Linked DNA regions of Homo sapiens. The protein of the gene in region 4 purifies or fractionates together with the protein of the main gene of each other region. This does not show direct contact. Each region holds a gene or a part of one and is shown on either strand. Other genes may lie near its edges. The genes, in order: FASTKD2, METAP2, RPUSD4 and DDX28.

Region 1 (7,511 bases), on a different chromosome or scaffold from region 4:
TTCTCCCTTCCTCTGCCTCAGAAGCTTTATTGCTGCCTAGAGAAACCTGCTCAGGGTGGGGTGACATGTAAAACCAGCCAGCAGTATACACAGGTGTTCCTAGTGGGTCTTAATAACATTAAGTGTCTGTAACCCTGAGTGAAATTCTTTTTAAATTCTTTTTTCTTTTTTGAGACATGGTTTCACTCTGATATCCAGGTTGGAGTGCGGTGGCACAATCTTGGCCCACTGCAGCTTCGACCTCCTAGGCTCAGGCGATCCTCCCACCCCAGCTTTCTGAGTAGTTGGGACCACAGGTGCATGCCACCACACCCAGTTAATTTTTCTATTTTTTGTACAGGTGGGGTTTTGCCATGTTGCCAGGCTGGTCTCAAACTCCTGGGCTCAAACGATCCTTCTGCCTTGGCTTCCCAAAGTGCTGGGATTACAGGTGTGAGCCACTGTGCCCGGCCCTGAGGGAAATTCTTTAAAAGCAAAATTCACAAACTTTTAAAGCAAAGTATCCAATTTTTATTGATTCTATAACATATATATGTGCATATATTGTAGTATCTTTATCAATCAGGATTTACTTGCTGATAACAGAAACCACTGCAACCTAGTTTAGACACAATGTGCTTTTGTTAGTTTCTGGCCATGCACAGAAGCCTCCTGCTTACAAGATGAATGGAAAGGCTGAAGGAGCAGCCTTTAGTCTGACTTCCAGGAATGACTCTCAGAACACTATCACATAACTGGCTGTCCAGAAGAGATGCTATCTCTGCTTACAGCCTGGAAGCTGGAAAGTCATGAAGATGCTGCCCATTGCTGGCTCCAGAGCCACATTATTTTAGCCACAATCCCCACCAGCAAAATGGATGCTCCTCGTCCTGCCACACCACACCCTGGGGTCTCTGTTATTGCTCTTCTAGAAAAATAAAATGCTCTGTGGCTGTTTGTTGGCAGAAACATTACCTCTATCTCATTTGGCCTTCCCAGTTTCAAGTAGGTACATCTGCATAGAGGAAGCTAAGTCACATTTGGAATTCAAGCTGAAAGGGGCTCTGGGAAATGTAGGCTTCAGCTTTTTTTGGATCCACCAGTGAGTCACGGCACACCTGTGTGCACAAATGGGTTACAAGTGTGTTAAGAGATAGCCATCTTGGACCGGGGGTGGTGGCTCACGCCTATAATCCCAGCACTTTGGAAGGCCAAAGGCGGGCAGATCGCAAGGTCAGGAGATCGAGACCATCCTGGCTAACATGGTGAAACCCTGTTTCTGCTAAAAATACAAAAATTAGCCGGGCATGGAGGTGGGCACCTGTAGTCCCAGCTACTCGGGAGGCTGAGGCAGGAGAATGGCTTGAACCCAGGAGGCGGAGCTTGCAGTGAGCTGAGATCACGCCACAGCACTCCAGCCTGGGCGACAGACCACGACTCCGTCTCAGGAAAAAAAAAGAGATAGCCATCTCCTGCCTTCTGGGCAGCCACTGCCCTCCTGGCCAGGAAGCTCCACACCTAGGTCTCCCTACAAGTCAGCGCAAAACAGGGTGGAGTCTGATGGTCCACCTCTCAGGCCCTGTGAATGAAGAGTATGAGAGAGATCTGTCCTTTGCTGCCTGGCTGTGATGTGCTGTGTGAAGACAAGGCTGTGCCACGTCCCTCGCCAGCTACCTAAGTGGCTTGCTGCTGAGTGAGCCACTGACCATCATAACTGCTGGGTAATTTCATGGAAAAGTGCAGTCAGTTGGGATTTGAGGAATGCCAGCTCCTCATAGGTAGTTCCAAGTAGATGCCCCAAATCTCTATCTTACAGAAACTTCTATTTGCTTAGAGATGTCCAAGCCAGTTGCAGGGTGACTACCCTCACAACACATGACATTCTATAAATTGGAATGTCATTGTTATTTGGAAATACTTGATATGAATAGTTCAATTGCATTTGAGGTCCATGTGTATTATCACAAAAAAAATACCATCACATTTTGTCAATGACAAGAAGAGTTGTTAGGCTATGTATATATGAAATTTTCAATTTTTGAATGTTTTTTAAAAGTTCTAAACTGTTTAATCAGCTTTGTGTAAAGAAAGTTTCTATTCAGTGGTAACTACTGAGAATTCGGAGAGCTGGTAAATGTCTCAATCAAGAATTGAGCTGGGCACAGTAGCCTGTACCTATAATCAGTCCTATCTACTTGAGAAGCTGAGGCAGGAGGATCCCTTGAGCCCAGGAGTTTGAAGCTAGCCTGGGTAACATAGCAGGGCCCCATCTTTAAAAATCTAAAAATTAAAATTAAAAAATAATAAAAAAGAATTGCATGTAGCTATTTCAAGAATACAATTTTATATCTTGTATCTAGAGCAAGATCAACCTTTTCATTAGGGATTCTGAAAAAAATATTTGGATATCTCACACAAAATGAGCATTTAATATATTTCCTAATTTTTTTCTATGTGTGCCATAGATCAGTGGTTGTTTAGGGGACAGAGAAAAAAGCAAAGACAGGAACCTTTTAGAGGTGATAGATATATTCATTATCTTGATTGTGGTTTCACAGATGTGTGTGTGTGTGTATGTACGTCAAAACTGACCTAACGGTACACTTTAAATATATGCAGTTTACTGTATGTCAATTATACTATAATAAAGCTATTTTTTAAATTATGGGAGAAGAAAACCCCACAAAGTACATTCCAGAAAGGTATTAATTTACAGTCTACCAACAGCTTATGCAAGTGCTTGCCTCATTATACCTTCATCAGCACTGTAATTCTTAAAAGAAAAAAAACTGCTAATTTGAAAGGCAAAACCATCTCTTCTGTTTCAATGTGCATGTCTTTACAAGTAGACTGAACTTTTTTCATGTTCATCAGCTCTTTGCCCATTTTTCTTTCATTGACACAAAGCAATGAAGAATGCTAACACTAGAATGCTAGTAAAAGAGGGATGCCTTTTTATCTGCCAGGTTAACTAGTACAAACTGAAAATTACTACCCTAAAAGGTGGTCATAAATATTCACAAATTTGTCAAATCCTTTGAAGAGGAGTCATAATTAGACACTCAAAACTGATGCACACTCAACATTTAAAGACAAAACCTTAGTTCCTTTAATAACAGAATATCTGCATCTTGTTCTGAAGCTTATAAGGTTAAATCACTTGGCCAAGTATACAAAACTAGAGGTTGTCCAATCTGGAACCAGAAGCCTGATCTCCTGGGACACAAGCTGAAGAGCAGGTGAGGATGAAATGATGTGGAACCAATGGCATAGCTGAGACTTCAGGAAAGGAAAATTCTTTGAGCCTTATCTTCCTCGTCCATAAAATGAGGGAAGTAACAATTAAATAATCACTAAATTTCCTTTCAGCTCTAACCTTTTCTAAATGCAAGCTGGATAAATTGATACAACCTGGCAGCTGTTGTCATATTGCTATAGTTTTTGTATTTTTTTTTTTTTTTTTTTTTTTTTTTTTTTGAGACAGAGTCTCGCTCTGTGGTCAGGCTGGAGTGCAGCAGGACCATCTTGGCTCACTGCAATCTCCACCTCCCGGGTTCAAGCGATTCCCCTGCCTCAGCCTCCCCAGTAGCTGGGATTATAGGCATGCACCACCATGCCCGGCTAATTTTTTGTATTTTAGTAGAGATGGGGTTTCACCGTGTTGGCCAGGATTGTCTTGACCTCCTGACCTCATGATCAGCCCACCTCGGCCTCCCAAGTGCTGGGATGACAAGCACGAGCCACCGTGCCCAGCCCAGTTTTTGTATTTTCTTATAAGCCTATGTTAGCTCACATTCAAACTCCAGCCCTCCCCTACTCTGTGTAGCCTTGGGCAAATACCTATCCTGATTTTAGAGATGAGGAAGTGAAGACACAGAGAGAATCATAATAGCAGCTACACCTCAAAGGGTTCAGATCATGAAAAGGCAGCACACAAATGAATACTTAGCAGTGCCCGGCACATACTAAGATGTCTAGTAATTGCATGTCTGTGTGCTTGGGGGCAGAATAACACCAACTTGCATGGAACCCATGCTGTAAGTTCCACAAGAGACCATGCCTATTCATCACTATATCCCCAGCGAGCCAAATACTAGGTAGACAGGCATATTGAACAAAATAGTTGAATTTGGACAAATATTTGAACAAAGAATGAACACACATAATCGAAAAAATAGTCCTCAGGTCTGATTCACAACACAATTCAGCTATATATTTAATTTAAAAGACTTCATGAAATTGTGGGAGGGGTAAGGGGGAAAAAAGAAAGAGAAAGGAAGGACCCCAACAACAGTAAGACTCCTTACCATCTACATCTCATCTGTGTTTCTCTTATTATAACCCATGAAATATCTCTACCTGCAGTGCTTATTACAAATACAAATACCATCCTCACTCATTTTCAACAGCTACCTCACTAATTCTTACACACTTGACAACTTTAGAACTTTGTCCAATTATTATTTGGCCAATGCTTGAAAATGATTTAAAGGCATAACCCCAAGTCTTAGAACAGCTTAGAGCAGGAGTATAAATATTCAGATTCCAAAGACAAGGACTACTACCCACATCAACCTGCCTGTGACACCTCACAACTAAGAAACCAGTTTTTAGTAGATCAAAGATGAAAAGGTGAAACGTACAGCTCACAAATCAAATATCTGGGCACTAGAGGGAATAGGTGTGGTTGGAAAAATAACCCTTCTGGAATTTTCTCAGCATATTTTTAAATGGCAGTAACAACATTTCTTCCACTCCTAAAATTAATTTTAATAGTGAACTGAGGTAACATTTTTTGTCTTAGCAGATAGCTCAATTCCATTGACAACTGACTTGTCATCTTTATTAATTTTTACAAATGCATGTCTCCTAATATGAAAAGGTTGATTTTCACTTTATTGTGTGCTTTGCACATTTACAGCAGCAACAGGAAGAGCTTCTACTGAATAGATTTTAGTCTTCAAAAATGTGACTGCATCTTCCATCTCTAGTTTGTCCATCTCCCAGTTATTGACCTTACCAAAGAAAGAGGAAAATAATCAGTTTGTGAGACGATACTAACAAAAGAGCTAGTTTAGAGATCCAAACATAGTAAAGTAACATGAGGACAATAGCTTTTTGAAAGCAAATGTGACCTTATAACTACTCATATTTTAAAGGCATAATAAGACTACATGCTAGGGTTTAAGAAAGCTTTAACTGTGAAAATTATACAAATTTTAAAGGTCCTCTAAATGGTGCAAAAACTGCTTTCTTGAGAAAATCTTCCTTAGAATATATATAATCAGCAATATAAAAAACAAAGTCTTAAATAGTAGCCCACTAAGAGAAAGGAGTCATCTTAATCTCAATAGTCCACACGTAATCCATTTCCAATACTAAAGTATAATAATAGAAGACTTGGAATGTTTACATCTTACATTATGCGCAGGACCAAATGAGTGGCATTTAGATAGATTCCAACAGCAACATATATATAAATGTATTTGTAAGGTTCCTACTACCTAGAAACATCAGAAGAGGCTGTTCAAGAGAAGCTGTGGGGTACAAAATAAAATTGAAGCATAAGAGGGAAGAGAAAGACCCATCTTCTTAAAACCATCCAGCCTTTTCTGGCAACAAACATCCTGTAACAGCTTCACACAGGCCATGAAAACAAAGCTTTAACATCTTTCCTTCCCTTGTTCAAGATAACCTGGAAATTAAATATGGTTTTGTGTATCTTAAATATGAAAATATATTATTTGCATTCTTCTTCTTAGCAAAAAAGGATTAAAGCTGACCAGAACAACATTTGTAAAAGCTCTAGTAATGACAGTAATCAGCTGAGCAGAACCCAAATCGTGTACTAGCAATGTTCTTTTTCAAAGAAAACAGTAACTAAAGCACTCATTCCAATAATGCTGACAATTCCTCTAGTCCTAGTAACCAGTCTCAACCACAAGATTCCTGGCAGCTGTTAGAATGTACATCAGTAATTAAAGAATATTTCATTTGCATTTTTTTCTCACCAAGATCACATGAAAACCCATTGCATTCAAATGCCGCATTTTCATAGCAAGGAATCCTCTGGGGTGGCTTGAACCCAAACAATAAGCAGATCTGGAAACACATAGCACAGCTACTCTGAAAACAAAAATAAACAAAACAAGAACAGTTATTGATATTACTATTTAGTCTTGCTGCATTCTTGTTCTCTGGAGATTTCCAAGTTGAGCTCTCCACCGACCACAATCCTTGATATTCCTGTCTTAGTCCTTCACTTCTTTTACTTGGCCTCTGCAGATATTCCACTATACAAGGCTACTTTATAAATCAAAAATATACAACATTATACACAGTTACCTCTCAGTTCCCTTTAAGGATGGCTACATTTTTGAAGAGGAAAATTTTCAGACATGAAAGCACCAATTTTAAGGGTTTTCTGTGTAGTGCTGATTTCTGATCTGAGTATAATTATTTATTCTACCAGTAGTAGTAACGGTGTAAATAATACCAAATAGTAAATGCTCTTCTTACACATATCATCTCCCAGAGAAAGCAGCATTTAAAAAACAGAAATAGGAGTTTAAATACAAGAAAGAAAACACCAAGAGAAAGGCAAGACTGTTAAAATAAAATCTGTAAATATAACGAAAATGTGGAAGGTGTAATTTGTTTTTTCATTGTTCCTGGCACTTTGGAAATACTAAGTTTACTGGGAGAAAAAAAGAAAAAAAAAAGACATTTATATCCTTACTGCCTTCACCTATACTCTGGCTGTTATAAGACAAATTTTATGTTTTTAAAGGAATGCTCACATTCTTCACTTCTCATGACTTTATGCTGAGAACAACTGTTATTTTATTATGCCAGAATAGCGGAGTACCCGAAAAAGAAAACTGATCTTGGAATGAGGTCAGAGAGAAAGCCTCTTCTGAGGGGAGATGGGTAGCACTAATAGGAAAGACAGCGGTTGAAAAGATGGCCAAGAAATAAGCTAGATGCATTCAGAAAGAGGTGAAAGTCACAGAACTGTGTGTGAATGAAGAGGGATGGGCAGATAAGAGCTTGGATCCCTACAGATTTTTTTGTATGTTTCTATCATATTTATGTGTGTGTGTGTGTCCAGTGGAGTTAACAGAAGATACAAGTTCCTTGGGGTCAGGATCCATGTAGCAGAGCTTTTACATAAAGGGTAACTGACCCACGGGTGTGTGCAATGATGGCATGATCTTATGCATCTACTGAAGAGGCAGGATGTTCTCTCATGGTATAGCATCATATTTCTCCCCAGAGACACTCTATTTGTAATGTGTGAGCCAAAGAAACAACTTAGGATTAGCTTCAATGTGCTCTAACCCATACAAATACAGTTTAATTAAAAAACTACGGTTTCTCTACCTCTGGAAAAGTCTTGGTGGTAGAGCAAAATATTTATTGGGTATTTGATTTTTGTAGAAGCCTCGAGTCTTTATTCTTTATGATCACTATTATATTATCTTGTCCAAAGTCTACACTGCATTGATAGTTTCAATTATATTAATATTGTT
Region 2 (7,511 bases), on a different chromosome or scaffold from region 4:
CCTGGAGACCAGGGGAATCACTACCAAGCCCCCAAAATTCTGATTCATAAAATTTTAGCCTGAAAAATTTTAAAGGAAGGCATAACCAGACATTCAGTGGTCTACAACAGCCCAAATGGCATCCAAGATTAAAACTTACATGTTGTGATTCTCAACCCAACCTTTCTTCCTCAACACTACGAAATCTCCCTTCAGCCTCCTTAATATATTTTCGGGCACCTGATGATGTTTGGTTGTGGCACTTACAGAAACTCAAAACAAGCAGGATATTTTATACAAATCTGATCGTACAATATAAAAGTTATTATTAATAATAAAGTCTCACCATATGCACACATCTTAAATAACGGGATTCCTCATTAAATACTCATCAAGAATCTCATAATTTAAAAGCTGGAAGGTAAATTACAAACAACGCTTACCCTACCACCACCATGGCACCACTTCGGCCATTCTTGACAGAATTATTCTTTAAATTATGCAAGTTTTAAATCATAAAATTTTTAGAAACTCATCCCTAACTTGCAGTAAAATGCAACCAATTCATATCGACATCCCTTAGCTAACAGCTAAAGAAAATAAAGGATTGTTAAACCAAAGTTATTAAACTAATAAATAATTATTAGTTTCACTAAATTCTGCTTCTATTAAGCCTAAGTTTATTTCCCTAACATATATCAGGACCTTAAGCAACTTCAAACCTACTCTTCAAACCTGTCAGTGAATAACCACTTCTTTTTTTTTTTTTTTTTTTTTTTGAGACAGAGTCTCACTCTGTTGCCCAGGCTGCAGTGCAGTGGCACAATCTCAGCTTACTGCAATCTCCGTCTCTTGGGTTCCAGCAATTCTCCTGCCTCAGCCTCCGGAGTAGCTGGGATCACAGGTGTGAGCCACCACACCCGACAGAATAAACACTTCTAATATATCAATTAACATTAACTTAAGACACTAACGTCCTCTCTTCTTCTTCTTCTTTTTCTTCTTCTTTCCAGTTGCTCCATCTCCATCGCCATCTCCATCTAAGAAAAGACATTTCAAGTACATGTTCATTTAAACCTCATAAGCAGAGGGACAAAGCAAGTACAAGGAGACAAGTATTTGCTCTATTCAATAAATGAACAAACGTTAGTTTATTTTATCTTGTTTACATTTATTCTTTCACTGAAATAAGAAATAGGAAGCAGCTACCAGGTGTGGTGGCACATGCCTATAGTCCCAGCTACTAGGGAAGCTGAGGTGGGAGGATCACTTGAGCCAAGGAGTTGGAATCCAGCTTGGGCAACATAGTGAGACTCCAACACTAAAAAATTTAGAAACAGGAAGCAGCAGTTTAGCAAAGTGGGAGGTAACGTGATCTAGGACTTACGTGGGTTGAACCATATGAAAATGCCAATACTTGACCATTTTTGGTCAAAATTGCCACTTCTTTTCTTTCTTTTTTTGAAACAGGGTCTAGCTCTGTTGCCCAGGCTGGAGTGCAATGGCGCAATCTCAGCTCACTGCAACCTCCGCCTCCCAGGTTTGAGTGATTCTCATGTCTCAGCCTCCACCTCCCAAGTATCTGGGATTACAGGTGCATGCCACCATGCCCATCTAATTTTTTTTTTTTTTTTTTTTAGTAGAGATGGAGTTTCGCCATGTTGACCAGGCTGGTCTCGAACTCCTGACATCAAGTGATTTGCCAGCCTTGGCCTCCCAAGTCCTGGGATTATAGGCGTGAGCCACTGTACCCAGCCTCAAAATCACCATTTCTTATGTTCAATCTTATGAAATTATCAAAAACCTAGCAGGCAGAAGAGAACAGTAGAAGTACAAATATTAGGCTAGGTAAAGTGGTTCACACCTGTAATCCTAGCACTTTGGGAGGCTGAGGCAGGTGGATCACTTGAGCCCAGGAGTTTGAGACCAGTCTGGAGGACATGGTGAAACCCTGTCTCTACTAAAAGTACAAAAAATTATCCAGGTGTGGTGGTATGCGCCCATAGTCCCAGTTACTTGGAAAGCTGAGATGTGGGAGGATCACCTGAGCCAGGGAAGTCAAGGCTGCAGTGAGCTGAGATCGAGCCACAGCACGTCAGCCTGGGTGACGGGAGGGAGATCTTGTATCCTAACAACAACAAACCCAAAACACAAATATTGCTGACTTATTCATTATGGATTTTTAGATTCAAAAGCCTAACAAAAGGCACACGAAAAATTATAATCTAATTCACATATCGTGCACTGTAACGTTAACAGTAACCTTCTTCACCCCATTAAATGTTTGTTGGGCTCTTAAGTGCCAGGCAATAGGGACAGAAAAATAAGATAGTTTCTGTTCTGGAGAAACAATAGTTTTTTCCAGACTAAAACTGGTTATGAATCTTGAAGTATTTGTTTTAGGTTGTGACTAGTGTATGTAGCACTATACCTAGTGTATGTAGCACAACCTAAAACAAATACTTGAAGATACATCACCAATTTTAAACATATACTAAAAATCTTTCCATCTGGGTGACCTTGGGCAAGTTATTTAGCCTCCCTCTACCCTGGTTTCTTCATCTTTAAAATGGAACAAAAAGGTCCTTCTTTGATACTTTCATCCTTTTGAGGCTAATTACCTTATTCAATGTCCAATGTCTGTATTCAGTACAGAAAAACAGCCACCATTTATAGAACTTTGTGCCAGGATGGCAGCAGAGCCAGGATCTGAGTATTAATCTATATATGTTTATAGTTCCAACCATTATACCATGTTGAAATTTGTGCTTTTACATGTCTTTTCTTCACAGTATCCCAGCATATTCTTCATAGGCAGAGATGGTTGGTTTTTTTGGTTTTTCTGTGACAGGGTCTCACTCTGTTGCCCAAGCTGGAGTGCAGTGGCAGGATCACAGCTCACTGCAGCCTCAATCTCCCAGACTCAGGAAATCCTCCCACCTCAGCTTCCTGAATAGCTGAGACTACAGGCACGCACCACTATACCTGGCTAATGTTTTTTAATCTTTTGCAGAGACAAGGTCTAAGTTGCCCAGACTGGTCTCGAATCGCATCTCAGCCTCCCAAAGTGCTGGGATTATAGGCATGAGCCACCAGGCCTGGCCAGCAGAGGCTGCTTATGTTTATTTGTGTTACTACTATGCCCAAATCAGTTGATATCTGTTGAATGACAACTGGAAATCATATTTTAAAAAAAAGAGTCTCAAGCTTTTAAGCTCTGCCTTGCACTATCTAGAAACATTAATTCTAAATGAACCATAGACCTAAACATAACAGCTAAAAATATATAAAACTTCTTGAAGAGAACACAGAACATCTTTGTGACCTTAGAGACAGCAATGACTTAACTTTTTAGACAGGACACAAAAAGCACTACCCATAAATTTAAAAAACAGATAGATTGGACTTTATCAAAATTAAAACTGTCCTATAAGCAATACCATTAACCAGGTGAATAGCCATCCCATAGAAATATCTGTAAAACATATTATCTGATAAAGAACTTGCAACCAGAATATACAATGAACTATTACAATTCAATAGGATGACAAATAACCCAATAAAACATGGACAAAAAATGTGAACAAACACTTTACCAAAGATAAAGGAAAAAGCAAATAAAAACATGAAAAGATGCTCAATATCATTAGGGAAGTGCATATTAAAACCACAATGACAAAGCACTACATACCCATTATCAAAGACTAAAATTTTAAAACAAATACCAAGTCCTTACAAGGATACGAACAACCTGAAACTCTCAACCATTGCTAAGAGGAATGCAAAACAGCATAGCCACTTTGGAAACCAGACAGCTTCTTAGGAGTTTAAACACATACTTACCATATGACAGGCAACCCAGTCCTATTTACTCAAGAGAAATGAAAACATATCTACACATAGACCCATATGCAAATGTTCATAGTAACTTCGTTCACAACAGACCAAAACTGTAAACACCCCAAATATTGTTCAATGTAAAAGGGTAAAACATATTAGGAATACTACTTGCAATAAAAAGGAATGTGCTATTGATAAATGCACAACTCGATGACTGTCAAAAGTATTATGCTAAGTAAAACAAGCCAAACACAAAAAACTACATACCGAATAATTCCATTTATAGGATACTCCAGGAAAGGCCAAAACTAGGGTCAGAAAACGTATCAGTGATTGCTAAGGGTTAGGTATAGTGCAAGAGAACCAACTACAAGAGACACAACTTTTTTCTGGAGATGGAAATGTTAAATGGAAATAGTCTGTATCTTCCGTCGTGGTAGTAGTTACACAATTGCATACTTTGTCAAAACTCACCAAACTATACACTTAAAAAGGATGACTATTGGGGCCAGGTATGGTGGCTCACGCCTGTAATCCCAGCACTTTGGGAGGCTGAGGCGGGCGGATCACTTGAGGCCAGGAGTTCGAGACCAGCCTGGCCAACATGGTGAAACCCTGTCTCTACTAAAAATACAAAAATTAGCTGGGAGTGGTGGCGGGCACCTGTAATCCCAGCCACTCAGGAGGCTGAGGCAGGAGAATCGCTGGAACCCGGAAGGCAGAGGTTGCAGTGAGCTGAGATCGTGCCACTGCACTGCAGCCTGGACAAGAGTGAGACTCCGTCTCAAAAAAAAAAAAAAAGAGTGGTGACTATTATTTTAGGGAAATTATATGTTAATGAGCCTGACTCAAAATGTATTGAATGAATTACCTCCAGCACACTGTCAGATGACCACAGGATCAACTTTTTATACCAATACCACAGTTTCCAATTCAGCACATCTAAAATTAAACTTAGTACCCTCTTCTTTGCCTGCAAACCTCTCCCCCAATGTCTAACTGGCTCTTTCCCAACTTCACTATTTCAGTCAACAGCACCAACATTCTGTCACCCAAGTGCAAACTCCCAGAGTCCACTAATGCCTTACTCCTGCTCCCAGAATGCAAGTCTCCAAGTCTTTTGAATTCTGCTTCCACACTACTGTTCACTGGATCCTTCCTCTCCATGCCTATTTATGACTATCAGTTTACATCTTCATTACCATATGCCTGGGCTATTTCTAAGAGGCCTCCAAAATGATCTCCTCCTTGCCTTTCCTACACACTTCCTCTCCTCTAAACAACCCTGTATACAGGTAAAGCCTAAATTATTATTTCATAACATTCCTTTTTTGTTAAGAGACAGGGTCTTACTATGTTACCCAGGTTGGAGTGCAGTGGCCAGTCACAGGTGTTTTCGTAGCATACTGAAGCCCCCTGGACTCAAAGATCCTCCCATCCCAGCCTCCCAAGTAGCTGGGATTACAGGCACCAGCCACTGTGCTTGGCTCATAACATTTCTTAAAAATCCTCTAAGGCTCCCTCAATCTATCACCTCATATGGCAAGCTTGTATTACCACAATGCTTCAAATGTTTTCTCAGCATTACCCCAACCCAAAATAGTTCCTTTGTTTGGTTTTACTCAAGTTCTATTCCTTCCAATGAGCCTTCCTTCGGCATTCAGCCCACACTTATACCACCAAATTTCAATAAATTTTATTACAGGTACCCAAATACCTTTTCACTTCTAGGTTTTGTCTGTCTACCACATCCTTAGTTTTCTTTATTTTTTCTTATTTTTTGAGACAGAGTTTCACTTTTGTTGCCCAGGCTAAAGTGCAATGGCGCAACCTCCACTGACAGCAACCTCCACCTCCTGGGTTCAAGCAATTTTCCTGCCTCAGCCTCCCGAGTAGCTGGGATTACAGGCACCCACCACCACACCTGGCTAATTTTTTGTATTTTTAGTAGAGATGGGGTTTCACCATGTTGGTAAGGCTGGTTTTGAACTCCTGACCTCAGGTGATCCACCCACCTCAGCCTCCCAAAATGCTGGGATTACAGGCGAGAGCTAACACACCTGGTCTAGTTTTCCATTAGGAGAAAGATCTTGAAACACTAGCTTTCCATTCCCTCAAAGACCTAACAACAGGTAAGTAGTATTGACTGACTCTGATTACTGAAATAACTACAAATATTCCTAAAATCTTCTTTAATACATTGAAGATTTCCAACCTGATGGGCAACTTTGTAGAGATGTAACAGAACAAGATAACACTTCAAGATTAGCACTGTGATTTTTTTTGGGGGGTGGGGGGAGGTGGACGGGTATAGACATAGGGTCTCACTATGTTGCCCAGGCTTGTCTGGATTACAGGCATAAGCCACCACACCCAGCCAATATTTTTTAACTAGCCTGACAGGCCCAGGAAGCATTATGATACCATATACACAGTGGGTCTATAGCAATCTATTATATTGCCTTGAATTTACAAAACATTTTCTTGTGAAGAGCTCAAAATAAGTTCATAATCTAAAGCATAAGCCAATGTAGAACAGAGGTTTAAGGAAGAGGAAAAGCTAGTAATTCCCTTGAATCTTGGCACTTTTTTCCACCAAATGTTCACTATAAGCTTCTTGAAGGCAGAGAACATACCACTCTAAAGGAAAACAACTACTCTACATTACCCTAACACAATAATTACAGCCCCAACTAATGGTTAAAGACCTAACCCCAGGCTGGTGGTGCTTGAGGGGGAGCAGATGTTCTCAGTAGTAGGCAGCTACAAATAAAAAGAATGGGAAAGCCCCATTTTTCCTCCGCCAAAAGAGGCTGGAAAAAAGTTAAGTTTTCTTACCTGTCTCTTCCTTCACTGTTTTACTGATAACATCAATTAGCAGTTGCTGTCTTTAAAAAAATCTTATTGTACCCAAACACCCAGAAGGAGCTAGGGTCAAGGAATTTATAATAAAACTTAGTGCACTCCTATACGATTCTTTCAGAATGAAAAGAGTTAATTTTGGTATAGAGAGTAAAAGGAACAGGCCGGACACAGTAGCTCAAACCTGTAATCCCAGCACCTTGGGAGGCTGAGGTGGGCAGATTACTTGAGGTCAGGAGTTCAAGACCAACCTGGCAAAACCCCATTTCTACTAAAGATACAAAAAAATTAGTTGGGCATGGTGGCAGGCGCCTGTAATCCCAGCTACTCGGGAGGCTGAGGCAGGAGAATTGCTTGAGCTCGGGAGGTCGCAGTGATCCGAGATCACGCCACTGCACTCCAGCCTGTGCGACAGAGCGAGACTCGGTCTCAAAAAGAAAAAAAAAAATAGAGAGTAAAAGGAACAAACGTGCAGTCAGGCACTAGGTTTGAAATTCTGGCTCTATTCTACACATATTAGCTATGTCACTTTGGGTAAATCATGTAACTACCACTTCCCTATCTGTAAAATGAGATGGCTGGGTAAAGCCATGAAGGGCTGGGTAAAGTCAAAATAAATAGGAAAAGACAGTCCATTACCAAAAAACAAAATGGATATCTAAGCACAAGTAGGTTACTTTGCTTGGTTTTGTGAGGTTAAAATGTGAATGTATGTGAAAATAACCTAGGAAAGTATCTAGTACATAGTAGTTCTTCAGTAAGTATTAGTTAAATAAACAACCCCTCAATCTTATTAATACTCACTACTTTGCCTTCTACCAAGTATATTT
Region 3 (7,511 bases), on a different chromosome or scaffold from region 4:
TTGTCAGTAAACCACACAGCTAACTGAATTTTCCCAGCTAAAGAGAGCTCCCTGAGATGAGTGAATATCCCCAGATACCTTCAGCCTAGTAAATATTCAGTTTGCCAAATTAAAGACTAGATTTACATCTTGGAGGAGACCATATTTATATATGAGAATATAAATCATCTGTTACTTCTCCAAAATGTATCCTGACTAGCTCCTACTTTTCTACATTTTCCAGTTCTTTTATTTCCATCATCTGTTCCTCTAAGATTGTTCTCCTTTTTGTGAGACAGGGTCTCACTCTGTCACGAGGCTGGAGTGCAGTGGCACAATCATGGCTCACTACAGTCTCAACCTCCTGGGCTCAGGTGATCCTCCTAGCTCAGCCTCCTGAGTAGCTGGGACCACAGGTGTGCGTGTGCCAACACACCCAGCTAATTTTTGTATTTTTTGTAGCAACAGGGTTTCACCACGTTGCCCAGGCTGGTCTCGAATTCCTGGGCTGAGGTGATCCGCCCGCCTCGGCCTTTTCGGCCTCTCAGAGTGCTGGGATTATAGGTGTGAGCCACCGCGCCCAGCCTCTTCTCCATTCTTGTGGGTATTCCTGTTCATCTGTTTCCCTGAATTAATGTCAATTATCACTATTTCCTAAGTGTCACATTCTTGTTCCTTTTTCTTGACTAGCATGGTTTACTAGAAACAGAAATAACAGCAAAAATATTTAGGTCTTATATAAACAAATATAGTCATCTCGTCTGTGCTTTCAAAGTTAAATTTATTATGCACAGTAATGGGTACCATGGAGACAGGGAAAGGGCTAGAAAGTGGCATCATCTATACAGAGGGAACATATAAAGACTGTCCCGGGGTGTACCCCCCTAACTGTGCTGTCACTCCAACTCTGTCAGAAAGAAAAAGTAGTGTGAGGTGTATTTGTTTGCAAGAAACAAGGTGGAAACTAGATGGACCAGCTGAGCAGGGAGGCCAAGGTCATTTCCATCTATCCCTAATGGTGTTCAGTATAGCCCTCTCCTTCCTGAGACCTAAGAACAGAAGATACGCTTCCACAACAGAGATTTTTGATTTTTTAATGGCAGCACTCTCATAACTACATTCACGGACCAACCAAAGCCATCTCCAAGCCTAGAAAGGATACATACTACACGCAGCGAAAATGCCAACCACTGATCCAGAATTTTCAAGATGGCACCTTTCCCCAAACTTCTATACCATTCATTAAACATAGACTGCAAACTGCTAGCCTGTAGACCAAATTCAACCTCTAAGTATTATTTGCTTAGGTGCCTAAGCATCTTTAAAAATTTGATTTAGTTGGCAATACACTGGGAGGTTTCACATAAATATCTAGGTTTCCAGCTTCTCTGAAGAAATGAGAAAATCCATTCCCACATGGCAACAACCAGCTGGAGCTAACAGCTGTTAGACAGCATGCCGCTCCCCGCTACTGCCTTACACCCAGCCAGCTTCATGTGTGCATGTTATCTGCCTGCCATTCACATCGGTTCTCCTTGCTCAGCAAATGTCCCACCTCAACCTCACACTCAATACCCTTATACAGGTTCCCTAATCAGAGTTCAGTAGGGCACCCACACTATAGCTGGGCAATCCCTGGATGCTGTGATATTTGTTAACCATTATGTTCTTTCCAACCACGGGAACCTTCCTAAGAGCTCAAGAGCTTCACTGCTGGATAAAAACAGTTCCTGATCCCGGATTCTGACCTTTAGTTTTCCTTTTCCAGTCACTGCCCCAGTCTGCCTGGCCCTGGGCTCTGTTCCATATTGGCAATGAGAGCCCACGGCAGGGAGACTTCCAGCAGGCTTTTCCACAGTGCAGCCAAACTATCAGTAAATAGACTTTGTTCTCCATTAAAAGCCCTGTAGCAGCTGAGTTGCTTTACCTTATCCCACCTGGCTCTTACGCAGTCTGTTCCAAGTGAGAAGTTAGCAGAGTCCTGTAAACAAAGAACAGTTCAGGGGCCAACCTGCGCTCCCAGGTGCCAGGATGCTCTCAGGGTCTTCACTGTGCTCCCAGGTGCCAGGGTGCTCCCATGGTCTTCACTGTGCTCCCAGACACTTGGCTTCATTGTTCTCATTTTGATCCTCATTTGGCATCTCTAAACGCAGGCGGTGCAGGGAATGCACAAAGAAGCGAGGAAGTTTGCAGACCAAGTTGAGTTCCTCCTTCCCGGACCCCAGGGCAGGCAGGATCAGCTGCCGGGCGTGCAGGTGAAGGGGGATGTAGCGGGCCTTCGACTGTTCTAGCCCCAGCTTCTTCAGGGTGCCCACAGACAGCTTCTATACAAAGAAAGGACAGACCCTTGAGAGCAAGGCCAACAGTCCACCCTTGACGAACATGCAAGGTCAGGGCACTTCTACTTACAGGGAACCAAAACTAACCCCCTGGAAGACACAGTAATGGAGAGTCTGCTTCAGTGGCATGTCTAAGAACGGCTCAGAACTCAGGTAAGGGAAAAATGACCACACCAAGACATTCTTTTTGGCCAGTGCTTTTTGGCCTAACAAGAGAATGGGCTGTGGTATAAGGATGAAAAGGCTTTCCCTGCGGTTTTTTAGTAGCACCATGAAAAGCTGCTCCCAGCCTTCAGAAACACCCCTCCCCTTGTCCACAGCCTCCCAACAAAATCTGAATAAACAAATGTAACAGTAAGCTTTTCACTAACAGATCCTGCAGTTCCACAAGGACAGTAACCAACTGCTCCTAAATTTCTCTAAAATCAAGATAATGAGCTTGGTATCATGTCTGAAGACAATCAGTAGGCTTTGTTGTAACTCATTTCAGAGTTTTAAGAAAAGGAACGCCTAAGTTCTCTCCCGTATCTGCTGCACATTGGGTCAAATTAGTATTACCTGGGGGGCCAACCTATTCCAGTCTGAGTACTTGTGATCACCAAGGATTGGACAATCCAATCCAAAAGACAAGTGAACTCGAAGCTGATGTTTTATTCCTTAAAAGAGAGAGAGAGAGAAAGAGAGAAAACTCGTGAGGAGCTACAGAAACAATACCAGTATTGGCATCTGCTTCAAATCGTGTTACATCAAAGTGCAGTAAACTGGCCAAGTCCCAACTATAATAAAGTATAACGAATAATATAGCAAACTATAAGTTATGTAGCACCAGCCAGTTTAGGAAGTAAACGCCGTAAATACTCTAAGTACCTCTCCCCACCACAATTCCCTCTTTCCACCATAGATAACCATTATCATGAACTTGCCGTCTACCATTACCCCAACTTTTTAGTAATTTTACTACATAAGTAGTATTGATTTGCACATTATTTGAATTGTAGTAACATATACATAAAATTTCCTGGTTTAACCACTGGCATTATACTAAATGCCAAGTCAGTGACATTAGGTGTATTCACACTGTTTTTGCAACCACCACCACCATCCATCTCTAGAACTTTCTCAGCTTCCCAAACTGAAACTCTGGACCCATTAAACAACAATTCCCTATTTATCTCCCCTCCTTTACCCTACCCTAAGATTTTGGCAACCACCATCTACTTTCTGTCTCTATACATCTGACTCTTCTAGGTACCTCACATGAGTGGAATCATATAATATTTGCCCTTTTGTGCCTGGCTTATTTTACTTAGCATAATGTTTTCAAGGTGCATCCATATTGTAGCATGTGTCAGAATTTCCCTTCCTTTAATTCTTTTAAAGCTGAAAATAACATTCTATTTTATGTGTATGCTACATTTTGTTTCTCCATTCATCCCCCAATGGTCACTGGGATTATCTTCACATTTTGTTGCTGTGAATAACGCTGCTATGAATATGTGTGCAAATATTTGATTTTTGGGGTATATACCCAGAAGTGGAACTGCTGGATCTTACAATAATTCTGTTTAATCGTTTTGAGGAACCACTCTACACAGTTTTAAATAGAGGCATTCAACCTGTTTGTATTCTTCTGCTAGCCACAACCATCTCTCTGGGAGTCCCCGGCCTCAGATCAGCACCAGAAGCACATTCTCACACAAGTCAGCCACACTACTAGCTGCTCAGAACGAGGCCCTGGACAAAACCTGGTGGCACAGGGTTTTGTGATCCCACTGCGGAAAAGTGACACTCTCACCAGTGATGGGCTGGAGCTCCACGAGGGCGGAGGAGAGAGTGCTGCTGAGCACCTGGTACTGAGTTACAGCAACTTGCGCATTCCGGCTGCGCCGCACTTTCACCATTTTCCCATCGTCCATGCGGTAGCTCGGGGACAATGTCATCTGAAGCCAAAGAAATCAAGATATGATTCCCAAGGAAGAGCAGCAACCCATGCCTCAGGGAGGCTGCTCGCTCACCTTGTGGTGTTGCTGCTGGCCTTGCGCCTCCTTCTCCACAATGGGGATGTCCACGACTCCTGCTGAGGGCATGGGGACATGCACAGTGATGGCCCTGGGGGTGACACAGATCACTGCTTTAGCCAACCAAGCCAGAGAAGAACTCCTAGATTTGGCCACTTAGAGGATTTCACGCTGGACCTTCTGCACTAACATGTGATTTCTTATGATTGAAGGATCGTGCAAGATTCTCTTGGTGTAATGCTTAGCCTGAGAGCTGATAGATTTCACAAGCTTATCTTTTTTACTACTAAAGTCATACATGCTAATTGTAGAATATTTGGGGTAAAAAAAGAAAAAAATTACATTAATAACATGGTCTTTCCAGTCTTTAAAAATGGATATGTACAGTTAAAATAAAATTATGGTAATATAGTTTTGTATTTTTTTTCAAATAATAAAAGATTGTAGATTCTGACTGCATGGTAAATGAACAAATGAATAATTGGATGAATGAACCTAATAAAACATTCAGAGAACCGTTCCTGGCTCATTTGCCACATAGGTAAAACAGGAGGGAACTGTACCCGAAGAAGTCACAGGGGACAGGCGTGGTGGCTCACACATGTAATCCCAATACTTTGGGAGGCCAAGGCGGGTGGATCACTTCAGGTCAGGAGTTCAAGACCAGCCTGGCCAACATGGTGAAACCCCATCTCTACTAAAAATACAAAAAAAAAATCAGCCAGGCGTGGTGGCGCGTGCCTGTAATTCCAGCTACTTGGGAGGCTGAGGCATGAGAATCGCTTGAATCCAGGAGGTGGAGGTTGCAGTGGGCCAAGATTATGCCACTGCACTCCAGCCTGGGAGACACAGCAAGACTCCGTCTAAAAAAAGAAAGAAAGAAGTCATAGGTACCACAACCACAACTCAATAACTCATTCCAAATCACTTCTGTTGGTGTTCTCCCTCCCATGACCTCATGACCTCACAGACAGGTAGAAGACTGTTTAATCTGTCTGTAAATTTATGCCTCTTTCAGGTCAATGATGGAAAAGTCCATCTGGGTACCTGGTGGTCGGTTGTATAATCACTAACCACGGGGTCAAAATCCTACTCACACACACTATTTCACAACGCAGACACTCCACTTCAGTTTCAGCTACTATCTGGTACATTTTATCGTATTTTACAGATTTTGTAGATCTTCTGTGACAAGAATGTCCTTCCTAATGATATGACACTACAACTCAAGAATGTTCCATCAGCAAGACCCAACTGATTGATTTCAATTCCTCCATGAACCTGATACCGAGAATGGTTACCAATTTTGAACCTTAATGGACATTTTTCACAAATAACATAACATGTATTTTATAGTCTTAATATTTTGATTGCTTGAATAGAAAAATAAGTCTCTATTTTTTATTTTTTAACTTTTCCTATGAACTAGGTACTGTGTTAAACATTTCACAAGAATCAATCTTATTTAACTATCTCATAAATCCTACTGTTTCCATTTTTCAGATGAAGAAAACAAAGCTTATGGACATTTAATAACCTGCCCAAGGCCCCACAGCTGTTAAATGACACAGTTGAGAGTTGAACACACATCTTTTTGAGGTCTTAGCTACTGTCCTAAATTCCTCCATTCTCCATAATCTTATCATAGTTCTTAAATTTGATTGTATATCAAATTTTAAAATACAGATGCCAATCCCCACAACCACCACACTTACGAATGAGAACTTCTGTGGGTAAGTCTCAATCATACATATTTTTAAAGGGCTCCTCAGATTCACAAAGTATCTGCAAAATCTGTAATCTAAAAAGGACTAACATTCAAAATATAAAATGAATACTTACAAATCAAATAGAAAAGAATAAACAACCTGGGCCAGACACAGTGGCTCACGCCTGTGAGCTGTAAGCGCTGTAATCCTAGCACTTTGATGGACAGATCACTTTAGGTCAGGGGTTCAAGACCAGCCTGGCCAACAGGCTGAAACCCCATCTCTACTAAAAATACAAAAATTAGCTGGGCATGGTGGCATGTGCCTGTAATTCCAGCTAGCTGAAACATGAGAACCACTTGAACCAGGGAGGAGGTTGCAGTGAGCCAAGATTGTGCCACTGCCCTCCAGCCTGGGTGACACAGCAAGACTCCATCTCAAAAAAAAAAGGCCAGGCACGGTCTTAAATAAAAAAAAATAATAATAATAAACAACCCTGTAGAAAAATAGGCAAAAGAAATAATCAGTCTGTTCCCAAAAGGGAAACTCAAATAGCCAATAAACATGTAAAAAACATGTAAATTGATAGCCAATATCACTGTTATACAAGGAAATAGAAAATATCTTTTTTTTTTTTAACTTATCACAGTGGCAAACCCTTTAAAAATGCTTTGGCTGATAAGGGGAGGTGGGTACTCACCACTGCTGGTGGGAATGTAAACTGATAAAAAACCTTTGTGGAGAGCAATGTGAGTACTATTAAAATTTAAATATACAAACCATTCAGCCCAGCGATTCAATTTTTAGAAATTTATCTTAAAAATACATTCACATATTCTTTGCAATAGGCTCTAAAAAATGAGAAATTACCTAAATATCCATCCATACAGCGGTATTTCACAGAGCAATTAAAAAGGAGACAGCTCTAAACGTATGACACAAAATGCTCTAAGATATATGATCCAAGTGAAAACTGTAGGGTACAAAACTCTGTGTGAAATACACTAGCATACAGTAATATGCTTATATATGCTCGATAACTCTGGAAGTTTACAGAAGACACCAGTCACAGCGATTGACGCTGGGGAAGGCAACTGCACAGATGGGGAATAGAGGGTTTCTTTTTTGCTCACGCATCTTTTTTCTATGAAAAACACTGAGGTAAACCTCTATGTGCTAACACAGGATGATCCCCAAGACATAGAGGTGAGCAGAGGAAAAAAGTATAATGTAAATTGTACAATGTGATATATATATAGATATATATGTGTACATACATATGTACACATGCATATACTGCATACACCAGACACGCATATACTGCGTACACCAGACACGCATATTCTGCGTATGCCGGACACGCGTATACTGCGTACGCCGCACACGCGTATACTGTATACACTAGACATATATGTAAATGCGTTGAGTAAGAACCAGAGGAAAAAAAACCAAACTGATTACATGGG
Region 4 (8,103 bases):
TCTTAACCTCAAAGAGCTTCTCAGCTCTACAACTGCCATCATCTATCAACTGAACCATGACAACAGTCTCCAAACCAGTCTCTCTGCCTCCAGGCTTATCACTTCCAATCCATGCTCCTTCCAGCCAAAGGGCTCTTTCCAAACGCAAAGATATGATACGCAAAACATGATAGTTCCATTTCTGGACGCCTTCCCTACTGCCTGTAAAATTAAGTCTACACTCTTTAACACAGTAAATATAAGGTCTGGTCTCCACCTTCCATAGAAGCCTCTTTCATCACCTGCCTCCTGCCCTCAGAACTCCCCCATGCTAAGCTTCAGCTATTCTTAAATATTTCTAGTTCCCCAGCCTGGCCTGCTCTCTCTCAGTATGGGATCTCTGAACAAGCTGTCCCTGCCCAGGGGCCACGTCCCTATTCTTCCACCTGGCTGACTCCCTGTAGACTTTTAGAACCTCATCACCTCCTCCTGGAAGCCTTCTCTGACCAACATCTCCCAAAACAGGGTAAAGGCATCTCTGAGCTCATTCCTGTCCTGGCATGGAGCTATCCTGGCAACTATTAATAGAAGAGCAACTATCTGTCAATATGCCTTCTTCACTGTAAGGTGAAAATAGGCACTGTGGCTTGTTCATCACCAGATCCTCATCAGAGAGCATACAATCTGGCATATGGTAGATGCTTAGTGTTTGCTGTAAAAAGAAGTTAATGGCAGCCGGGTGAGGTGGCTCACGCCTGTAATCCCAGCACTTTGGGAGGCCAAGGCAGGCGGATTACCTAAAGTCGGGAGTTTGAGACCAGACCAGCCTGACCAACATGGAGAAACCACGTCTCTACTAAAAATACAAAATTAGCCGGGTGTGGTGGCGCATGCCTGTAATCCCAGCTACTTGGGAGGCTGAGGCAAGAGAATCACTTGAACCCGGGAGGCGGAGGTCACAGTAAGCTGAGATCATGCCACTGCACTCTAGCCTGGGCAACAAGAGCAAAACTCCATCTCCAAAAAAAAAAAAAAACAAGAAGTTAATGGACCAAGTGCAACAAGAGCTATGATCCACTCCATGCTTCAGTCACAGAAGAACTCTATCCCAGCCAAAGTGCATTTAAAGTGCTTTGTTATCACTCAAGTTTGGTTTTAGAGGAGACGAATGACTACTCCAATCTCTGGCTTACCCAGTAAAGGACTACAAGCCCTTTGGCCAACTTGCATGGAGCCATCACTTGAGTGAACAAGATTCACATAAGAAAGCAACAGAAGAGGTTGAGCCCAATTCTGGATACTGATTAGGAAATAATCTGCAGGCAACAAGGATTCATGAATGGCTTTTGAGTCAAAGGGTAACATGGCCATAGCTGTGCTTTTTTTTTTTTTTTTTTTTTCAGATAGACTCTTGCTCTATCACCCAGTCTGGAATGCAATGGCACAATCTCAGGTCACTGCAACCTCCGCCTCCCGGGTTCAAGCAATTCTTCCACTTCAGCCTCCCGAGTAGCTGGGATTACAGGTGCCTGCCACCATGCTCAGCTAATTTTTGTATTTTTGTAAAGAAAGGGTTTCACCACGTTTGCCAGACTGGTCTTGAACTCCTGACCTCGTGATCTGCCCGCCTTGGCCTCTCAAAGTGCTGGGATTACAGGCGTGAGCCACCACACCAGGCCTAGCTGTGCTTTAATAACATCACTCGGGAAACAGAAGGTAGACCAGAGGGTAAAAAACAAAGAGCAGGTAGGGAGCTGGATGAGAAGGAAGGTCAAAGGGTCCAGGAATACTATAGTGATAATGACTGAAAATATGATTACCTGCGCACAGCCCTGCTACAGGTGGGAAAATGGAGGAACAATAAAGTAATACCAATAGCACTTTTTATTGCTGTAATGCTTTGCAATTCCCAAAGTGCTTCATTTATAACTGTGATTCTCAAGCCTAGTTACATCTGGAGAGGTTTCTAAAAATACCAATTTCTCGGCTGGGCACAATGGCTCACATCTGTAATCCCAGCACTTCGGGAGGCCAAGGCAGGCAGATCAACTGAGGTCAGGAGTTCGAGATCAGCCTGGTCAAAATGGCAAAACCTCATCTCTACTAAAAATACAGAAATTAGCCGGGTTTGGTAGCACGTGCCTGTAATCCCACCTACTGGGGTGGCTGAGGCAGAAGAATCACTTGAACCTGGGAGGCAGAGGTTACAGTGAGTCGAGATGGCACCACTGAAGTCTAGCCTGGGTGACAGAGCAAGACCTTGTCTAGGCCTTAACCCAAATCAATTAAATCAGAATGTAAACTCCACAAGGGCAGGGATTTTGGCTGTTTTCCTCACTACCAATGCCTGGCACATGCGTGGTGCTCAGGAAGTATTTGTTGAATGAATGATTGAATGAATGAATGAATATACCATTATTAACTGAGATCCAAGGAACACACCAAGCTCCTGATCTCAGGAGCTTAGATTTTTTTTCACAATAAGGATACCTTTCCTATTTCTAAAGCACTACTTATAAAAATATCTCAGAAAACATTTAGAAGTTAATCAATGTCCTCTGTGAGTGAGGGGGAAAAAAGGTAGGCAGTGTCTAGTGATGTGACAAGAAGAAATTAGTGGCCACGGACACAGACAGGCTTAGGCAAGCTCTAACTCCTGTGAAATTTTGAGGTAATCATATTGTAAGGACTCAAGCATAATGAGAAAACAACTATATATTAACCAGCTACCCTACCCTGGATATTTGAACAAAACCCAAAAACCCAAATGCATATACATACCTATTATTTTGTTCTGATACTTCAGGATTACTTTGATATATGTGTTCTGGCTTTGTACAGAGTAATTCTTTGTTTGATATCTGAAAAACAGTGGCACATGGAAATGGATGAAACCTGTTGGGACAAACATCCAAGGGACCTTTTTTTTTTTTTTTTGAGACAGAGTCTCGCCCTGTCGCCCAGGCTGGAGTGCAATGGTGCGATCTCGGCTCACTGCAACAACCTCCGCCTCCCGGGTTCAAACGATTATCCTGCCTCAGCCTCCCGAGTAGCTGGGATTACAGGCATGAGCCTGGCCCCAAGGAACTATTTGGATAAGGAGAAGCCCTGAGTTTGGAAAGAATCATAAAAGTAGCATAGAATTGGGCCGGGCACAGCGGCTCACACCTGTAATCTCAGCACTTTGGGAGACCAAGGTGGGCAAATCATGAGGTCAGGAGTTTGAGACCAGCCTGCCCAACGTAGTGAAACCCTGTCTCTATTAAAAATACAAAAATTAGCTGGGAGTGGTAGCGCACACCTCTAATCCCAGCTACTCAGATGGCTGATGCAGGAGAATCCCTTGAACCCAGAAGGCAGAGACTGCAGTGAGCTGACATCGCACCACTGTACTCCAGCCTGGGCAACACAGTGAGACTGTCTATAAAAAAAAAAAAAAAAAAAGTATCCAGCCATTGTCAAATATGGTGGGAGGGAAAGGGCAAAATCACCCTTGTTTTAGAACCACTACCCTATCCAATGACTGTTCATTCACCCATCACTACTCAAAACTTTCTCTTCCTACTTCCAGATATTTTCTTGTGGAGAAAAAAAGCCTCTCTTCCTCTGATTTATCTGGTAACTCTCCAGAAAGTCTAATTGTGTAGCACAAGGGTAGAGTGTACTTAAAATTGTGAAAGTTTTTCCTCATACTATTCCAAAAAAAGCAAAGTTTTTATCTTTTCATTGGTATTTGATGAAACTAAAACGTTTTCTCCAGATGTTACGAACCTCCCAGAGAGTTAATCCATAAATATTTACCTTATCTCCCACCCCAGGCACTGCAAATTACAGAAAAGATCTGACACCCATTTTCCAGATCTGTTCAAGAAGTATCTGTTGGGCATGGTGGCTCACGCTTATAATCCCATCACTTTGGGAGGCCGAGGTGGGAAGATCGCTTGAGGCCAGGAGTTCGAGACCAGCCAGGCCTACATAGTGAAACCCTGTCTCTACTAAAAACAGAAAAAATTAGCCGGGCGTGGGTGGTGTACGGCTGTAGTCTCAGCTACTTGGGAGGCAGAGGCAGGAGAATCACCTGAACCCAGGAGGTGGAGGTTGCAGTGAGCCGAGATTGCGCCACTGCACTCCAGCCTGGGTGACAGAACGAGACTGTGTCTCAGAAAAAAAAAAAAAAAAAGTGACTCGTATAGTTCTTGTTTTTACAACCCGAATATCTGAATTCAGGTAAAATATTCTGCCTGACCAGGGCTACATGATAAGCCACGTACTTGATCACTTTGTAGGGTCGCAGCACCCTTCTTACTACTATTTTAGGTAATTCAGGTTTCTGACGGGGAAGCCAGTGGAGCTGAGCGGGCTGCAAGAGGGGTGGGTTCTGGATGAGAAGTTGGGACGCGTGACGAGGGAGTAGAGAGTGAACCTTGGCTTAAAAGGAAGGAAAATAACTGTGAAGAAAAGATGACCCAACTTGAAATAAAACCTGAAGACCTTATCTCCCACTTGAGAGAGAGAAGAAGCTGAAAGCCATCAGCTTGCACTCTGGGCTCACAGACAGAGAGGGTGAGGGGTTGAGCCCAGATCTATGACTTCAGACCCCTGTCTCGGCCCCTAGGCCTGATCATTCATTCAAACTCTCAATAAACACGGATTACCAGACCCTGCGCAGGGAACACATCTGGGAAAACAGCTGCAACCTCGGATACCAGCACGGGACAAGCTATCTCAGGGCAATGAGGAACAACTAAAGAGAATCCCAGGAACCAGGTAACCAATCGCCAGAAGCCCTCCGCCCTCATGGTCCATTGGGTCAAGGCCCCACTGCCGCCTCGTATCGCCAGCCTCCAGTCCTGCCTCCACGACGCGCCCTTCCCCAAGGCTGGCCGGGTCTGGATGTCGCCATCCCCTATTCGGAGCTACAGACCTCGCAGCTGAACTCTTAAAAAGAACCTCGCTTCTTCCTCACGGTGCTCCAGCTCCACACACCGTACTGAGCCTCGCCAGCCACCGTACGCGAGGTCGCGGCGCGTCCGTGACGTCACTGATGTGCGCTTCTCCCGCACTAAGGGAAACATGGCTCTAACGCGGCCGGTGCGGCTCTTTTCCCTCGTGACTCGGTTGCTCCTGGCGCCGCGACGGGGCCTCACGGTCCGCAGTCCCGACGAACCCCTGCCGGTGGTGCGCATCCCAGTGGCTCTACAGCGGCAGTTGGAACAGCGGCAGAGCAGGCGGCGGAACCTCCCGAGGCCGGTGCTGGTTCGACCCGGACCGCTGCTGGTTTCGGCGCGGCGGCCGGAGTTGAACCAGCCGGCGCGCCTCACACTGGGCCGTTGGGAGCGCGCGCCGCTAGCCTCTCAAGGCTGGAAGAGTCGACGCGCGCGTCGGGACCACTTCTCCATCGAGCGCGCGCAACAGGAGGCGCCAGCGGTGCGAAAGCTCTCGTCTAAGGGCAGCTTTGCTGACCTGGGCCTGGAGCCCCGTGTGCTGCACGCACTACAGGAGGCTGCGCCTGAAGTCGTTCAGCCCACAACCGTGCAGTCTAGCACCATCCCCTCACTACTTCGCGGCCGCCATGTCGTTTGCGCCGCAGAAACCGGCAGTGGCAAGACTCTCAGCTACCTCCTGCCGCTGCTTCAACGGCTCTTGGGCCAGCCAAGCCTGGACTCCCTTCCTATCCCCGCGCCCCGAGGCCTGGTCCTTGTTCCTTCCCGAGAATTGGCCCAACAGGTGCGGGCTGTGGCCCAACCCTTGGGCCGCTCCTTGGGCCTGCTGGTGCGGGACCTGGAGGGAGGCCACGGCATGCGTAGGATCAGGCTGCAGCTGTCCAGACAGCCTTCAGCAGATGTGCTTGTGGCCACTCCAGGGGCTCTGTGGAAGGCCCTGAAAAGTCGACTGATCAGTCTGGAGCAACTCTCCTTCTTGGTGTTGGATGAGGCAGACACACTGCTGGATGAAAGCTTCCTGGAACTGGTGGACTACATCTTAGAGAAGAGCCACATAGCAGAAGGCCCAGCTGACTTGGAAGACCCCTTCAATCCCAAAGCTCAGTTAGTGCTGGTAGGAGCCACATTTCCCGAAGGTGTAGGCCAGTTGCTGAATAAAGTCGCCAGCCCAGATGCTGTCACCACCATCACCAGCTCCAAGCTCCACTGTATCATGCCTCATGTGAAACAGACATTTCTGAGACTGAAGGGAGCAGATAAGGTGGCCGAGCTGGTGCACATCCTCAAGCATCGTGACAGAGCAGAAAGGACTGGTCCCTCAGGAACTGTTCTGGTGTTCTGTAATAGCTCCAGCACTGTGAACTGGCTGGGATATATTCTGGATGACCACAAAATCCAACACCTAAGGTTGCAGGGGCAAATGCCAGCCTTGATGAGGGTAGGAATCTTCCAGTCCTTCCAGAAGAGCTCCCGAGACATACTTCTCTGCACAGACATAGCCTCTCGGGGCCTGGACAGCACTGGTGTGGAGCTGGTTGTCAATTATGATTTCCCCCCAACGCTGCAAGATTACATCCACAGAGCAGGGAGAGTGGGCCGTGTGGGGAGCGAGGTGCCAGGCACCGTCATCAGTTTTGTGACCCATCCCTGGGATGTGAGCCTGGTTCAGAAGATTGAGCTGGCGGCTCGCCGAAGGAGAAGTCTTCCAGGACTAGCATCCTCGGTGAAAGAGCCTTTGCCCCAAGCAACCTGATTTTGACAAATCTGATTAAAATGTGATGCTAGAACAGGGATCTTTCCCAGTATCTTGAGTGGGTGACCACACTTGTCAGTGGGAGGCTCTGGGCTGCCCTGTCGGCTCCTTGAGGGCGGGATGAACTGCTTTGTGACTTGGAAAGGTACGCTGCTGGCCAGCATTGGAGAAGAAGCTGCTGAGCATGGCTTTCTGTAGTCTTTAGCAAGACACAAGTGGATTTTGACTTTGTATCATGTCATGATTTCTAACAATAAATGATGTTTTTATGTGCCTCCCCTAAGAATAATTAGCACCGGGGCGGAATTCAGTAGTTTCTGAGGATTCATACACCAAACCTCCACATCTAGGACAAAGGCTCTTTCAGTTGATGTTTTCATTTATAAACATTTAGTTTGTATTTCCTGCCCCCAAAAAGGTATCCATTAAGCCCCCAGGGAAAGGAAAGGAAAGGAAATGTGACTAGCAGTAGACAGAGTTACTCTCTAACAATGCCCAAGACAAACGGGCGTCTTGGCGAAATCTCTGGAAGGTACTGGCAGAAAAGTAAAGGGTAGACGAACACAGAAGTTTTGCTTGTACATTTTCAGGTTCTGCCTTCTATCCCAACTCGGTAGCCGAGAAAGAGGAGAGATGATTAAACGGTTTTACAAAACTGGAAAAATAACCATATAGCATTTTCTTTATATATATATATACGTATATATATATATATATATATATATATACATACGTATATATATATATACACATACATATATATACGTATATATATATATGTATATATATATATACGTGTATATATATATACGTGTATATATATATGTGTATATATATATATACACAAAAAAAAATTACAAAAATCAACCCGGCGTGGTGGCACGCGCCTGTAGTCCCAGCTACTCGGGAGGCTGAGGCAGGAGAATCACTTGAACCTGGGAGGCGGAGGTTGCAGTGAGCCAAGATCATACCACTACACTCCAGCCTAGGGGACAGAGCAAGACTCCATCTCAAAAAAAAAAAAAAAAAAAAGCCGGGTGTGGTGGCTCACGCCTGTAATGCCAGCACTTTGGGAGGCTGAGGCAGGAGGATCACCTGAGGTCAGGAGTTTAAGACCAGCCTGGTAAACATGCGAAACCCCATCTCTATTAAAAATACAAAAAAATTAGCTGAATGTGGTGGTGCACGCCTGTAATCCCAAATACTTGGGAGGCTGAGGCACAAGAATGGCTTGAATTCTGGAGGCGAAGGTTTCAGTGAGCCAAAATTGCACTTCTGCACTCCAGCCTGGGTGACAGAGCTGATATTCTGTCTCAAAAAAAATAACAGAATCCTGAGCCCCACTCCAGATGGGATTAAGCTCTCTAAAGTTTGACCTGAGAATACTCTTTGTAAACTCCCCCAGGTGATACTTGGGCCCTCCCAAAT

What was found.
Region 1: the proteins of DDX28 (region 4) and FASTKD2 purify together in Homo sapiens (affinity purification with mass spectrometry; 2 studies listed by BioGRID and IntAct, with this or other methods). This does not show direct contact.
Region 2: the proteins of DDX28 (region 4) and METAP2 purify together in Homo sapiens (affinity purification with mass spectrometry; 2 studies listed by BioGRID and IntAct, with this or other methods). This does not show direct contact.
Region 3: the proteins of DDX28 (region 4) and RPUSD4 purify together in Homo sapiens (affinity purification with mass spectrometry; 2 studies listed by BioGRID and IntAct, with this or other methods). This does not show direct contact.

The regions. Positions count from the first base shown.
Region 1 is NC_000002.12:206,789,166-206,796,676, reverse strand, and holds the end of FASTKD2 (FAST kinase domain-containing protein 2, mitochondrial), read right to left. Parts: intron 6,106-7,511; coding exon 5,991-6,105; intron 4,995-5,990; coding exon 4,875-4,994; 3' UTR 488-4,874; downstream 1-487. UniProt on the Homo sapiens protein: Plays an important role in assembly of the mitochondrial large ribosomal subunit.
Region 2 is NC_000012.12:95,476,723-95,484,233, reverse strand, and holds part of METAP2 (methionine aminopeptidase 2), read right to left. Parts: intron 1,020-7,511; coding exon 954-1,019; intron 1-953. UniProt on the Homo sapiens protein: Cotranslationally removes the N-terminal methionine from nascent proteins. The N-terminal methionine is often cleaved when the second residue in the primary sequence is small and uncharged (Met-Ala-, Cys, Gly, Pro, Ser, Thr, or Val).
Region 3 is NC_000011.10:126,201,355-126,208,865, forward strand, and holds the end of RPUSD4 (pseudouridylate synthase RPUSD4, mitochondrial), read right to left. Parts: intron 4,428-7,511; coding exon 4,334-4,427; intron 4,259-4,333; coding exon 4,114-4,258; intron 2,975-4,113; coding exon 2,877-2,974; intron 2,304-2,876; coding exon 2,064-2,303; 3' UTR 742-2,063; downstream 1-741. UniProt on the Homo sapiens protein: Catalyzes uridine to pseudouridine isomerization (pseudouridylation) of different mitochondrial RNA substrates. Acts on position 1397 in 16S mitochondrial ribosomal RNA (16S mt-rRNA).
Region 4 is NC_000016.10:68,020,152-68,028,254, reverse strand, and holds DDX28 (probable ATP-dependent RNA helicase DDX28), read left to right. Parts: upstream 1-5,022; 5' UTR 5,023-5,052; coding exon 5,053-6,675; 3' UTR 6,676-7,339; downstream 7,340-8,103. UniProt on the Homo sapiens protein: Plays an essential role in facilitating the proper assembly of the mitochondrial large ribosomal subunit and its helicase activity is essential for this function. May be involved in RNA processing or transport. Has RNA and Mg(2+)-dependent ATPase activity.